Linked DNA regions of Homo sapiens. The main gene of each other region encodes a partner of the protein of the gene in region 2 in a complex. Each region holds a gene or a part of one and is shown on either strand. Other genes may lie near its edges.

Region 1 (7,948 bases), on a different chromosome or scaffold from region 2:
ATTTGCTGTAGGTCCAAGCTTTGATGACAAGAGATCCTTCAGTTGGACAATGTAGTTAAAGGGTATAAAAATAAGTTCATTTACAGTTTCACAAGGTAACTCTACACTCACACTTAAGTTCCCCATTTCTTGTTTCCAGTTTTTATCCTACGTGTTTCAGAAAGTTTTCTGCTACTTAGCAAACTGGTAGAAGCTCAGAGGTCAAAGACCAAAGATGCCAATTAAAATAATCCTTATTAGTTGGGCTCGGTGGTTCACACCTATTATCCCAGCACTTTGGGAGGTCAAGGCAAAGGATTGCTTGAGCCCAGGCATTCGAGACTAGCCTGGGCAACATGAAACTCCATCTCTACAAAAAATACAAAAATTAGCCAGGTGTGGTGGCTCATGGCTGTAGTCCCAGCTACTCAGGATGCTGAGGTGGGAGGATGGCTTGAGCCCAGTAGGTCAAGGCTGCAGTGAGCTGTGATGGTGCCACTGACCTCCAGCAAAAACCCTGTCTCCTCAAAAAAACAAAATGCTTATTAATTTTTAAAAAGGGAGGAGATAATGATATGAAGTTAGGAGATATATTATCATGAAAGAGGCTGTAGTTATTTGGGCTCCACAATTAATCAACTGGAGCACAGTCATATTAGCTAAGCAAGCTTAAGTTTAGGCATGACATAGCAATCCAAAACACAGAGGACTGAATTTTTCAATTTGCAAATCGCTTTATATTCAAAATCTTCAAATTATTTGAGAAGAAAATGGCTTCATTCAAGCATCTGCAGAAACTTTGATCCAGTTACAAAACAGACATGTATTAAATTTGTCTTTAATAAGTGACAAGGTTGGGTTCGAATCTTTGGGATCATTTAACAATTCTTGTCTCCTCTTTAAAAGAAATGAAAAGCTATTACTCCAACCACCACAAGATTTAGTAGTGAGCTACACATCTGCCGTGGAAAATAAAGAGCAGCTGTACTTGATTCTCTGTGTGGTTTATAAACATTTGTCTGCAGAAAGATATTTCAGATGCAGTTTAATATGAAAATAAGCCCGCGTTTTCCCCTCACACTTAAGAACAGCACCCCTCAACTCTCCACATTCATTTGCCACCCCACTTTAACAAAAGCAACCACAGCAACTAAACTTGGATTGATCAAAAAAAAATGTCCATTTTGTTATTTAACATTTTTAACCCTCTGTAAAAGTGTTTTTATTGCCAAGGTATATTCCATTACTTCAGATGAGTTATTTGAAAATTATAGATGACTGAGGAAAGTGCATTATTTAACTCATTTTATGGGTAAAAATTTATTATTCTTTACATTTCAAGCCTTAAAGGAAAATAAGTCCTTGCTAGTGCAAACATGGTAATACTTGCAAAGAAATATGAAATTATGTTACTTATAGCCTGAATGTTAAAACCTTTTATTAACAAGAATCCTTTATGTATGCTATGCCAATGGGGAAATGTAAATAAAAATGGTCTTCAATGGTAAAGTGTCTAATAGGTCACTGATATCAGTGTCATGTCAAACCACTGCATTCCCTGTCATTATGGAATTAGCCCTTCAGACGACTGAGCTGAGGCAGGTTTCTTTAAGGGGATATTTGGGAAGAAAGCAAATTAATAGGAATAAATTATTTAAGCTACAGTAAAAAACAGGATTGGTGACACAGGAAAATCAAAAGCTCTGAAGAGGTTTAATTCAGTGAAGCCTTCCAATGGTCACCTGCCTAGGCCCGCCACTGGCATGTTGCCAGATAACAATATGTTGCCTCCAGGATAAGGAACCATGGGGAAGAACTCTAGAACTTACTAAAGGGAAGCCAGTCACAGACCAAATAGCCCTGCAGGTCTCAGAGCAGCTGTGCTGTCCCCAGGGCTCTGTTCAATTCCATGCGATCCTGAAGAAGATATTCAAAACTACCTGCTACTACTCGAGAAGACTAAAAGATAACCTCTGTATCACTCTTTCCTACCTTCCAGAACCAAAGAGGGGTTAAGAGCCACAACATCCCCAGAGAAATAAAAAAAGGGGGAAGGGGAGGCGAGTTTCCTTAGGGAGTTTGACCGCACACACTCTGAGATTGACATAGCTCTAAGAAATGCGTTCTCCCATTCTACCCTCGTTCCGTTCTTTCAGTGACCTTCTGTCCCTACTGCCTCAGGGAAGGCAAGAGAAAAGCCACCGCCTCACCACCACCCCCAACCCCCACCACCGGAGAAGGTGCCTTTCTCAGTTGAGAGCCGCAGAGGGAGGGAAAAAAAAGGTTGCTCCTCCCCAACCCACCCGCCCCACAACTCCTGGGTGCAGACACGATGAGGGAAAGAGGAGAGCAATGGAAGGTGACAGCCCCGCACTGGCCCAGGGGATAAGAATCCTTGCTCTGGTAGAAACAAGGGAGAATCCCCCTCCCACTCCCCTACCCAAATGAATGAAATGAATAAAATGGGGAGAGAGTTTGTACGCGCAGTTCTGGCCATCCAGGAAGCAAGATCGAGAGGCCTTTGGATCCAGGCCTGGTCCTTGCAGCTCTTTGCACCCCAACTCCTGTCCTTTCCATCCAAGCCCCACATCATTTAATATTTTAAGCTTTCCAAGATAGTGCCCCCTCCTCCACCTACCCCAATCACCGACAACCCCCCCGCCCCTCCAGCTCCGATACTGCTCGGGCCCAGACTCCAGCGTCTTCCATCCTTCCTACCACCTTCTCCACAGCCCTCACCAGCCCGGGCCCGGCCGCACCTGGAGATGCTCCTGAAAACGAATTGGCAGAATCTGGGCCATGGCGCTGTCGGGGGTTATGGTCTCCTCCTGTCACTGGGGCTGCGGGGCAGTGGCTGCCCGGGCTCTCCAAGGGAGAGGAGGAGAAGGGGAGGGGGGAGGCTGGGCTCAGCAGGATCCTCTCCGGGGACGCAGGAAACTGGCAGGCAGACGAAAGAGCTCGGGTCGGGGGCGGAGGCTCCAGGGGCCAGGAGAGCCGCAATGGCGGAACCGGGCGCAGCGCAGACTCCGGAAACGGCTGAGCCCAGCGGAAGGATCCCGGCGACAGAACTCCGCCCAGTCGCCTCACCCCCTCCGCCTTATGTACCCCTCCACGGAGCGCCGCGCGCGGCGGGCGCAGGAATTCGGGGCGCAGTGCGCCCGGTGCCTCGCTTCCTGACGCCACATGGGGGGAAACAGAGGAACCGGAGGGACTACTTTTTTAGACTCATCACTTTCGCCAGTCTTCTCTTTCTCCCCCCACTTTTTTTTTTTCATTTTGCCACATCATGCGACTCGGGGCGACCGACGTCACTTCCGTGGGCGCTTTAGGTCCCACCCACGTACTTCCAGGTGCACGTGATACTGATGGGGAAGGGTCGGCTGATTGCTGCCAGAAATGGAGAGCTCGTTTTAAGGAAATGCGGCGTCTCCTGGGAGTGAAGAGGCTTTTGGGCCACCTTGAGGCATGACGGGTGCCGCTTCGTTTCCCTGCGACCGCTGCCTGTTTCGACTGAGCCCCTCACAGGAGGACGTGGCGGGGGCAGACGGGCGCAGCCTCCCGCCCTCTCCGTGACTCAGGGAAACGGCCTCGCCGCAGAGCGCTCCCTCGGCAGCTGGCTGCAGCACTCCTCCCCCGCCGGGCTTCAGAGTGGGTGGTTTCCTACAGCCTAGGGAGGGGGCCTGAAACGGGGTTTAAAATCTTCCCTGCCCTCACACAAGCCCTTCTGACTGTTGGAGAACCTGACGCGCGGATTCTAACTAGAACTGGCACTCTCTTCGGGTGTTAGATAATTAACTCAAAGGACAGCGAAGGCCTTTTATGATGTCTTTCAAGCTGGCCTTATGACAGCTTTTCTTAACGTTTCTGCGGACATTTTGGCGGACTTGTGTCGGCCTAGCTCAGTGATCAGTTTCGTTAAAGAATTTGAGTATCCGAACATTAAAGGATTGGACCTAAATTCTAGCAGGAGGATTTTTAGCCACATCAAATAATTTACGTCTCAAAGATTTAGATAATTAGGGTAAGGATGCTTAGTAAAACCCGAAGGTTCCATCGCGCCACTGCACTCCAACCTGGGCGACAGAGCGAGACTCCGTCTCAAAAAAAAAACAAACAAAAAAAAACCTGAAGGTTCCTGGAGGAAAGAGATGAACTATTAGCCGTGTATTTCGGTGGGACCACCTCAACATAGGTTCCTGTAGGTTAGCAATGTAGAAATGTAGCGCTTCAAAGCCGGAGCATCCTGTCTTCAAAGAGCATGAAGGTATCAACGGCATTCATTGTCGATTAATAATAACCTTTCTGGTACTTTCTTGCTAAAGTATAAGCCATAATAATATTTCATAATCGCACCAATACAATAAAGGATGAAAGACGTTAGTTCTGTGCCTTTTATCTTTGTAAGAGAGGTGATTCTCCCCCCCCACCCCCCGCCCCGCCGAAAGAGAAAAGCTCAAGTCCACAATAATTATTTTTAGTGTCCTTTTCAGTTAAAGGACATAAAACCCTATTGGGTAGACGATAGTTTTGTATGCTAAGCAGTTTAGGTTACAGTGAGAAGTTTGCCAATCATTTTAGTTGCTTTTAGTGTTTTTCCCTTTACTTAACTGTCTCACATACTGAGCATGAGAGAAGAGTCTGGCAGGTAAGAGGGCAAAGATTGTTCTGCAAAGAAAAGCCTTGCCACCATGTTGTAAGAGTGAATATTTATGCTTGCAAAATTTCTTTTTGTATTGTTAAGCTAAATACACGAAGATCCTCTGTTCCGCAACATTTGAAATAACCTAATGCCAGTCTAGTAATAACTGCTTTAAACCCTTTTTGGAAGTAGACAAATTCTAAATTAAAATTCTAAGGGAGTAATTGTTTTATTACAGTAATTCAATAGCTTGATCAAGTCACCTTTTCAATCTCAGAATCCGGAGATAAAAGAGCCGTATCATGAATGGGCCACCAAAATTTAATTAGTGTCTGGCATTTTCATACAGACCCTGTAACTTTAAGTACATTTAGAATCCCAAAAGCAGTTGATTTTAGCTATTTGGAGTGGAATATCTAACCAAAAAGTGCGCTGAGGTTGTTAGTGACTGCTACGTCATCACACATAGAAATTACACTGTTTTGAGAAATAATTTAGGAAGAGGAAAAATAGATCGTGATATCCTGGGTCATTTTGAAATGATCTTCAAATTAATCCAAAAATTTTCAAGAGAAAAAAAAAGTCAAGATGATAAACATTAAAAAAAAACCCTATGCCTTTTTAAAGATGAATAATTTGAGTAGGGTAATAAGAGTTTTTTTTTTTTTTTAATGGGAGTCTGCTGTTCTTGGTAACAGTATAAAGGCAGTTTCACTGGTTTCACTGGTTTAGTTACCTAAGCAATACCTGAATGGCACTGTTTTCAGACATTACCTCAAGTTAGAAGGGAGAACAGATAACCTAATAGACCAGGAAGCAAATCCTACTACCCAGAATGGCTTTTTCTACGATACAGTATGACATAGTCTTTTAATAAGACAATGCTATGAATGATCACTCTAGCTTTTGGTTTCAGAAAATGTTTTAGCAAGGTAGCCATGTTAATCAATGGTGAAGTGAAAGCTATTTTAGTTGGAATGCTCATCAACAGTAGACTATCATGAGTCACAGCAAGTGCCATTAGCAAAAACTACATTGCTTGGTCTGTTATTTTGAGGACTGCTAGTTTCTGAAAACCTATACAAGAAACCTGTGTTGTGTCACTAATTTTAATGTTATGCCAACAATTAGGATGGAGATATATACATATATATATATATATATATATATATATATATAAACACTCAATAGAATGACACCTCAAAACACAAACAAAAAACAAAAAAAAAAACAACCCCTTTCACTGTAGGATTTCTCCATTAGCTGTTCATCTTCAAGCAGCCCTAGCACTAATGCCCCTGCCTTTTAAAAACTTGACCTTTTAAAAACAGCCTGAATTCACTGCACTGCAAAAGTCACAAAGAAAAGGCATATCTCACATACTCAGAAATTAATTTTAAAGCAGAACTTTAATCCACTGTACCAAATGTTTACAATTCAGATTCCAATAAAGCCATAAAGGACATACTTTAGTATTATCCAAGTAAGATACTTGGTTTTGCCATTTAAACAGTAGCTTTGAAGCATCTCAACCCCCTGGGGCCACTGATATGAATCCCAGCAGGATTAGACTGGCTAGGTCTTTATTTTTTCATGCAAGATAAGGAGCAGCCTATCAAATGCCAGTAAACAAATGTACAAGTCACTGACTATCGGCAAGGCTCCCCGCTCCAAAATGAAGAAAAGAAAGCAGCATTTACAAAGCAAGAACAATTTTTTTTTTTTGAGACGGAGTCTTGCTCTTGTCGCCCAGGCCAGACTGCAATGGTGTGATCTCGGCCCACCACAACCTCCGCCTCCTGGGTTCAGGCAATTCTCCTGCCTCAGCCTCCCGAGGAGCTGGGATTACAGGCACCAGCCACCATGCCTGGCTTATTTTTGTATTTTTAGTAGAGACAGGGGTTTCACCATGTTGGGTAGGCTGGTCTTGAACTCCTGACCTCAGGTGATCTGCCTGCCTCAGCCTCCTCAAGTGCTGGGATTACAGGCATGAGCCACCACACCCAGCCCCACAAGAACAAAATTTTAATGGCATTTTAATTTTACTATGAAACGTACTTTACTCTTGACATCCACTGCGCAGGCTTGTTTTAAACCTTTAAATATTTAGACAAGTTTTATAACGTACGATGGATAGCAATAAGATCTATAGTGAATCTTTACTTTGTATCAGCATTGGGCATGTTCCAAGTGAAAAGCCAAGACTAGCTTTGTGGGGATCCAATGTAGAATGAAGTCACATTATATAGGGCCCACCCATGTTTTTGAAGGGTTAAATAAGACCCTGGCAGAGGAATGAAGTGGTTCATGACATTACCTTAAAAAGCCATTTCACAAAAGTTGGTTTAGGCAGGACATGGTGGCTCAGCCTGTAATCCCAGCACTTTGGGAGGCCGAGGCGGGCGGATTACCTGAGGTCAGGAGTTTGAGACCAGCCTGGCCAACATGGTGAAATCCCACCTCTACTAAATATACAAAAATTAGCCAGGCACCGTGGCAGGTGCCTGTCATCCCAGCTACTTGGGAGGCTGAGGCAGGAGAATCGCTTGAACTTGGGAGGTGGAGGTTGCAGTGAGCCGAGATCACACCATTGCACTCCAGCCTGGGTGACAGAGCGAGACTCGGTCTCAAAAATAAAATAAGTTTCTGGATGCCTTCAATTTCCCTTTTGTTTTTTGAACCCCCCTGCCTATTTCCCTTTCAATTCTAGACAAATTAAAGGAAACATTCCTATTATAAGCATACTTTTATATAGCACTTTTAAGAAAGGTGTTTATTAATAGGGGATTTCATATCAGAGGATCAGATAAATATGTCTTCATTTGCCACTCTACAGTGTGCCACTGCACTCCAGCCTGGGAACAGAGCAAGATTCCGTCTCAAAAAAAAAAGCTAGTTTAAATATAGCAATTCACAGAACATTGTGGATAGGAAAACCCAGGAGGATTTTAACCCTGCTGATCAATAGGGAGTCAGATGCCATGTCACAACATCTTGCAACAAAAGTCACAAGAAGCTTGAGAGCATCTATAGAATGAAGAGGTAATGAGGGTGAGAGTGTGGGATTAATTGTTAAGGGCTATTTCTTTTTTCTATTTCTAAATATGTAGAACGTTCTGTGTTCACCTCCTAGAGTTACTACTGTCTCCAAAGCAAAACATGACCCACAGATATGTTCCCTTGGGAAATGTAGAGTTTTGCCACTCTAGGGATAGTTCTGCCAGTAGCAGTGTACATCTGCAGCCTTGTTAATGGTAGTAAACTCTCACTTCTTCGCAACAGAATAGCTAAGGACTGAGATTTGGTAAAGTTTTGGTTAACTCAATAATA
Region 2 (7,060 bases):
TTTTGCCTTAAAGACAGTAGTTAGTTGTAGATAACAGGTTATTAAGGGGCCAGGCGCGGTGGCTCACACCTGTAATCCCCACACTTTGGGAGGCTGAGGCAAGATAATTCCTTGAGCCCAGGAATTTGAGGTTACAGTGAGCACACCACTGCACTCCCGCCTGGGTGACACAGTGAGACCCTGTCTCTTGTAATTTAAAAAAAAAAAAAAAAAAAAAAGGAAAAAGACCAAAAAGGAAAGTTATTTATAGAATGGTATTTCAAAACTCTTCTGGCCAGAGTTTTTTACTCACACAGGCATTAAACCAACTATTATTCACTCTTCAAAGTACTTAAAATTACAACAGACCTTTACTTACTTGGCTTAACATTGGTCTTTTCTGGAACAAGCCCTTGAGATGTCTCATCTAATTCAACAAGAATTCTACCTTCCAAGGTTGGAATGTTTACATCTTTCAAACCAAAGTGTCTATTTCGTTCGTATTCCTTATGTCTATTTTCTTTCTGAGACAGTGATTTCCTATGAGCAATTTTAGTTCTAATCATTTCAGTACTTATATCCTTCCTGTGTCGACTGGCAAAATGTGATGAAGACATCCTGTCAAGGAAAAGGACAAAACCCAACTTACATGAATTTTCATTATTTAAAAAATTAAGATTACAGTTCATTTCCTGTCCCACTTCAGGGCCTTCTGAAATAAAAATATAAAATGTGCAATGAAATAAATATGTAACACTGAAAAGTGAGAAGAAGATTATCAGAGAATAAGAAGCTACCTATTTGGGGGTTTTAAATAGGAACTTGCTTGACCAGTGAAGAGAAAGCCAGTAAGTGATAGTCCAGAATAAAAGAGGCTCTGGGCTTACCACAGAGAACACTGCAAAAAGAAAAGCGTGAAATAAAGGTGAAAATAGGTTAAGTGAAGGACCATGTACACAAGGGTTTCCTTACCCATGATGAGGAATGCAGGTAGTCTAACATTTCTTCTAAAGCCAAAAGAAAACCAAAAACAAACAAAAACCCCACACCAGGTACCTATTAGTCATATAGGGATAATCAATAGGCAACCGGATACAGATAGAGTTGGATAGAGAGGCACAGGGCAAAGTATGTGGAAAGGAACAAGGAGCTTCCATGCTCTCTCAGGTAGCACCACTGTTTAGGAACCTTCATGTATTCACCTAAGAAGCTCTCCAAACACAGGTGTTTTTTTTTGGTTTTTATGGCAGCTTCATTACATAAGCATGAGTGATTAAATCATTGACCACTGGTGATCAAGTCAACCTTCAGCTCCTCTCCCCTCCCCAGAGGTTGTGAGGTGGGGCTGAAAATGCCAACTCTCGAGAAATCCTGCCTTGGTCTGTCTAGTGACCAGCCCCAATCCTGAAGCTATTTAGAGGCATCCAGCTATCAGTCAATCATTAGCATACAAAAAGGTACCACTTTGAAGACTCCAAGGATTTTAGTAGTTGTTTGCCAGAAAACAGAACAAGACCAAATATATAGTTCACAATAACCCTATCAGTTTGCTCCATTATTTTCATCCATACAAGAAATCATACAGTTTAGGCCGGCACGGTGGCTTAGGCCTGTAATCCTACCACTTTGGGAGGTCGAGGCAGGACTGCTTGAGCCCAGGAGTTTGAGACCAGCCTGGGCAACATAACACGACCCCGTCTCTATAAATTTTAAAAAAGAAAAGCCATACACACACACACACACACACACACACGCACAAAATCATATAGTTTAATTGGCACATGCCTTTTTCTTGGAAAGATCTTTGAGAATGTATTCAAGCAAAACAAAAGAGGACAATAAAGACGACGTCAGTAGATCCAACTAGGGAGAACAAAGAAAATTAGAAAGTTTGAGGGGGTCACCTGTGTAGCTGGTATAGAGAACTACCAAGCCAAACTGGAGAAAGGATACTGATTCTCAGAAGTCTTGGCAGTTAAAAAACAAAAACAAAAAAAGGTAAGGGGGAGGCTCTGTGATAGACACACTATGGTATATTCTTCAACAAGAATTAACTAAATCCACTAGAAAACTCCAGATAATAGAAAAATTGGCACAAGTAATGCAATACATTGTTACATGATTCTAAGCAATCAACAAAATATAAAAAACGAGAATCTGTCTGACCTGCATGCTAATAACATTCTCCTCTAAGACCCAAGGAAAGTGACAATGGACTGTGCTTTTCATAAAGAACTGTCTTCTACTATTTATCTCCTGCAATATTAATTCGCTAAAGATTGAAGAAAAATTAAGACTTATGTATTAAATACAGGATAGCACTATCCACAGCAAGAGAAAGAGCGAGCGAGGACAACATTAAAGGTACAATTATCAGAATAACCCTGAAAGGTAGTTAACTATTATCGCTCTCATACAGATGAGGTCAATTAACTGCTCACATTAGCATATCTAAAAGGTGGTGAAGCTGGGATCCCAAGCAAGGCAGCCCTGGCTCCACACACACCTAAATTTTGTTTGGCTGAGTGGCGTTTCCTCCAGCTTGAAAGTCCAGAATGCGTTAATCTTGCTTGACTAGAGGTTCTCAACCGGGCGTTTTTAGTTGCCATGGGACCTGGGAAGAGCTACGGGAATTTAATGTCGGAGCTAGTGAAGAACAGTTTCACCCCAAAGGTCAATTACGCCCCGGTGGTGAAACGCTGACTATTACAGAGGTCAGGGCAAACATATGGACTCTTCTAAAGGCTCGCATTATCAGCTTCGGGAAGGGCAGGTAACACGGTCCTAAAGGAGCCTGCCTCTGACTTGCTCCCGCTCGCAGCCCCCGGTCCTCAGACCCTTCTAGACCTTCAACGGAAGCGGGCCAGTGTTCTCCGTCCAGCTCTCCAGCACCCACCTACCTGAGCCACCTTCTAGCGTGAAACCTCAACCAAACAAAAAGTAAAGAACACTCGGTCTGGACGACCACCGCCGACTCCGAAGCAGGAACCCTCACAACCCGAGCCTCCACGAAATTCAAACTTGCCGCACCGAGCCGCTGATTGGAGGGGCTTTAACCAACACTTCCGGGGAAGATCCCACCCCTTCCACTCAACGAGGCTTGCGATTGGTTTGCTCCGTGCGATATTTGAATTGATTGAAAGGTGAAGGGCCAGTTCAAAAGATGGGTGAGAGAGGGAAAATAGGCGGGACCGCGACGCGGGATGAGAAGGAGTGGAGCAGTCGGGGCGCTCACGTCAGGTGAAGGGCGGGAGTGGGCGGTGGAGCCCGAGGGGTGAGGCTGGGTCCCTGGCAAAGCTGGGCTGCGGGAAATCTCCCCCAGAGCTCGCAAGGCTTTTTTTTTTTTTCTTTTTTCTTTTTTTTGAGACAAGGTCTCTGTCCCTTAGGCTGGAGTATAGTGGGCACCGACCACTGCTCACTGCAGCCTTGAGCTGCTGTGTTCAAACCATCCTCCCACCTCAGCCTCCCGAGTAGCTGGGACTATAGGCGCGCACCACTACGCCTGGCTAACTTTAAAAAAATTCCGTAGAGACAGGGCCTCACTACGTTGACCAAGCTGGATTCAGGGCTTTTTAATGTCCTTGTTTAGTCACAGAATCTAGCAGACCTTCTTGGAATGTTTTCTTTACTAGACGTTTTAAAGAAAAGGCTTACCCCAATTATCAAATCCTTACATAGTTTAGCGTTACTTTTCAACGTCGCCAGCCCCCCTCCCCTTTTTTTTCTTTTTTAGTTCATTTTTTGTTGAGGCGAAGTTTTCGTATACAGTGAAAATAATAGTTTTTCCCCCCCAGTGGACAATTTGATGAGTTTGGTAAATGTAAACAGCTGTGTAACTACCACCCAATCAGGACGTAGAGCATTTCCATCACTCAGAAGAGTGGCCTGTTTCTTTCCTGTCCATCTCCCACCACATCAGCAACCACTCCTCTTATTTCTAGCACTATAAAAATGAAGGTGATAGGTACTCTTTTGGGTCTGCGTGAACCAGAAGTTAGTAGTGTTTGTTATTGAGAGGCATTCCATTGAATACTTTATGCATTCACCAGTTGATGGATTTGTATTGCTTTCAATTTTTGGTGATGATGAGCAAAGTTGCTATAACCATTCTCGTACAAGTCCTTGTGGGCATATTTTATTTATCTTGAGGAAATACAGGAGTGGAATTTCTGGGTCATTCTGGGTATGTTTAACTTAAAATTTTTTTTTTTTTTTAGAAGCAGGGTCTCTCCGTCCCCCAGGCTAGAGAGCAGTGGCACAATCATAGCTCATTGCAGCCTTGGCCTCTTGAATAGCTGGGACTATAGGCGGGTGCCGTCACCCATGTCTAACTTTGTAAGGAATTGCCAAGCAGTTTTCCAAAGTGGTTGTACCATTTTACAATTCCCACCAGCCACATATAAGAGTTCCACTTGTTTCACATGCTTTCCAGCACGTGGGGTTGTCAGTCTCTAATGTTCACCCTTCTGGCCAGGCACTGTGGCTTGCGCTTGTAATCCCAGCACTTTGGGAGGTCAAGGCGGGGGGATCACGAGGTCAAGAGATCAAGATCACCCTGGCCAATATGGTGAAATGCCGTCTCTGCTAAAAATACAAAAATTAGCCGGGTGTGGTGGTGCGCGCCTGTAGTCCCAGCTACTCAGGAGGCTGAGGCAGGAGAATCGCTTGAATCCAGGAGGTGGAGGTTGCAGTGAGCTGAGATCGCACCACTCCACTCTGGCCTGGGTGACAGAGTGAGACTCCATCTCAAAAAAAAAAAAAAAAAAAAAGAGACTGAGAATGGTGGCTCATACCTGTAATTTCAGCACTTTGGGAGGCCAAGATGGGAGAATCAGTTGAGGCCAGGAGTTCAAGTCCAGCACTGGCAACATAGCAAGACCCCATCTCTACCAAATAATAATAATAATAATAATACAATATTAGCTGGGCATGGTGGCGCACATCTCTAGTCCCACTACTTGGGAGGCTGAAGTGGGAACATCACTGGAGCCCAGGAGTTTGAGGTTACAGTGAGCTATGATCGCACCACTGTACCCTAGCCTGGACAAAAAAGTAGGAACCTGTCTCAAAAAAAAAAAAAGAAAAGAAAACTATTCTGCTATTAAGAAACTCTGATGCATTCTTCAGCATGTCAATTATATTTTTTGACCCTAGAATTTCTGCTTCTTTTAAATTATTTCAGCTTCTTTGTTAAATTTATCTGATAGAATTCTGAATTCCTTCTCTGTGTTATGTTGATTTTCTTTGAGATTCCTCAAAACAGCTGCTTTGAATTCTCTGCCTGAAAGTTCCTATATCTATGTTTCTCCAGGATTGGTCCCTGGTTCCTTATTTAGTTCATTTCATGAGATCATGTTTCCTGGATGGTGTTAATGCTTGTAGATGTTCATTGGTGTGTGGGCATTGAAAAATTAAGTATTTATTGTAGTCTTCACAATCTGGGCTTGTTTTTGGCTGTCCTTCTTGGGAAGGCTTTCAGGGTGTTTGAAGGGACTTGTGCCCCAAGCCTAATAATGCTGTGGTTTTTTCAGACTTGTAGAGGTACCACCTTGATAGTCTTGGCAAAGATCTGGAAGAATTCTCTGAATTACAGGCAGAGACTCTTGTTCTTTTCACTCACTTGCTCCGAAATAAATGGAATGTCTCTCTCTGCTGAGCCAGCTGGAACTGAGGGTGGTGGCTCACTGTGGCCACCACCACTGGGACTGTGCTGGATCAGACCTTAAGCCAGCACCTATCATGGCAGTGAGTTCCCCTAGGCCCCGGCTGTTCCCAGAGCTGGGCTGTCTGGGAGCCAGGGATTGGAGTCAGAAATCTTAGCAATTTACCTGAAGTTCTTTTTATTATTATTATTATTATTTTTTTAAGGTGGAGTCTCTGCCGCCCAGGCTGGAGTACAATGGCGCAATCTCAGCTCACTACAACCTCTGCCTCCCAGATTCAAGTGATTCTCCAGCCTCAGTCTCCTGAGTAGCTGGGATTACAGGCGTCCGCCACCACACCCGGCTAATTTTTGTATTTTTATTAGAGACAGGGTTTCACTATGTTGGCCAGGCTGGTCTTGAACTCCTGACCTGGTGATCCACCCACCTCGGCCTCCCATAGTGCTGGGATTACAGGTGTGAGCCACTGCGCCTGGCCTACCTGATGTTCTATTCTACTGTAGCTAACCTGGCATTCAAACCATAATACAAGCCCTTTCAACTCTTCCCTTCCCTTTCCACAGGCAGAGGAGCCTCTCCTATAGCCACCACCACCACCTGTTCATGGGGGTTTCTGCCAGGCCACGGCTGATGATCACATAAAGCTCAAGCATTCTTCTGTCAGCTTGCGGTGAATGCTGCCAGGCCTAGAACTCACCCTTCAGGGCAGTGGGCTCCCCTCTGGCCCAGGGCAGATCCAGAAATGCTGTCAAGAGCCTAAGCCTGGACTCGAGGACTCCCCCAAGAACCCTCTTGGTGCTCTACCCCTCTGTGGCTGAACTGGTACCTAAGGTGCAAGACAAAGCCTCCTTTATGTTTCCCTCTGCTTTTCTCAAATAGAAGGAGTCTTCCATTGTAGCCACCACAGCTGGGAATGTGCTGGGTCACCCCTGAAGCCAGCATATCTCAGAGCCCAAGGCCCACAGCATACTCGCTGGTATTGCTGCTATTCAGGGCCCAAGGACTGATGAATCCTGCCAGGACTGAGTCCTTCCTTTCAAGGCAGTAGGTTCCCTTTTGGCCCAAGGTGTGTCTAGAAATGTTGTCTAGGAGCTAGGGCCTGGGATGGGAGCCTCATCACCCTGCTCAATGTCCTATCGTACTGTGGCTGAGCTGGTATCCCAGATACAAGACAAAGTCCTCTTTACTCTTTGCTCTCCTCTACTTAAGCAGAAGGAAAGAGTCACTTTGTTGCAGAGAGCTGCACTGCCTGGGGTTTGGGGAGGTATGGCACAAGGTGTGCCAGCTGGTGTCACTCTAGGTCACTTACCATGCTAGTTCACTGGCTGTAAGGCAAGCCTAGCATTAGGAATTGCCTAGGACTTGCAGTCCTTGTGTTCAGACTGCCTTTCAGGTTTACCTAGGACCCCAGAGCACTT

The links. Proteins that work in one complex are often made in the same cells at the same time.
Region 1: the proteins of DLGAP5 (region 2) and CLTC are in contact, whole or in part, in a crystal structure (PDB 7ZX4), measured with the Homo sapiens proteins. Residues at the interface, in NP_055565.3 of Homo sapiens: Gly833, Asn834, Leu835, Ile836, Thr837, Phe838, Ser839, Pro840, Leu841; in NP_004850.1 of Homo sapiens: Val50, Arg64, Pro65, Ile66, Ser67, Ala68, Leu82, Lys83, Ala84, Thr87, Gln89, Phe91, Ile93, Lys96, Ser97, Lys98.

Annotation. Positions count from the first base shown.
Region 1 is NC_000017.11:59,614,964-59,622,911, reverse strand, and holds the start of CLTC (clathrin heavy chain 1), read right to left. Parts: upstream 3,018-7,948; 5' UTR 2,781-3,017; coding exon 2,739-2,780; intron 1-2,738. UniProt on the Homo sapiens protein: Clathrin is the major protein of the polyhedral coat of coated pits and vesicles. Two different adapter protein complexes link the clathrin lattice either to the plasma membrane or to the trans-Golgi network.
Region 2 is NC_000014.9:55,188,584-55,195,643, forward strand, and holds the start of DLGAP5 (disks large-associated protein 5), read right to left. Parts: upstream 3,003-7,060; 5' UTR 2,880-3,002; exon of another isoform or gene 2,486-2,879; intron 598-2,485; 5' UTR 597-597; coding exon 359-596; intron 1-358. UniProt on the Homo sapiens protein: Potential cell cycle regulator that may play a role in carcinogenesis of cancer cells. Mitotic phosphoprotein regulated by the ubiquitin-proteasome pathway.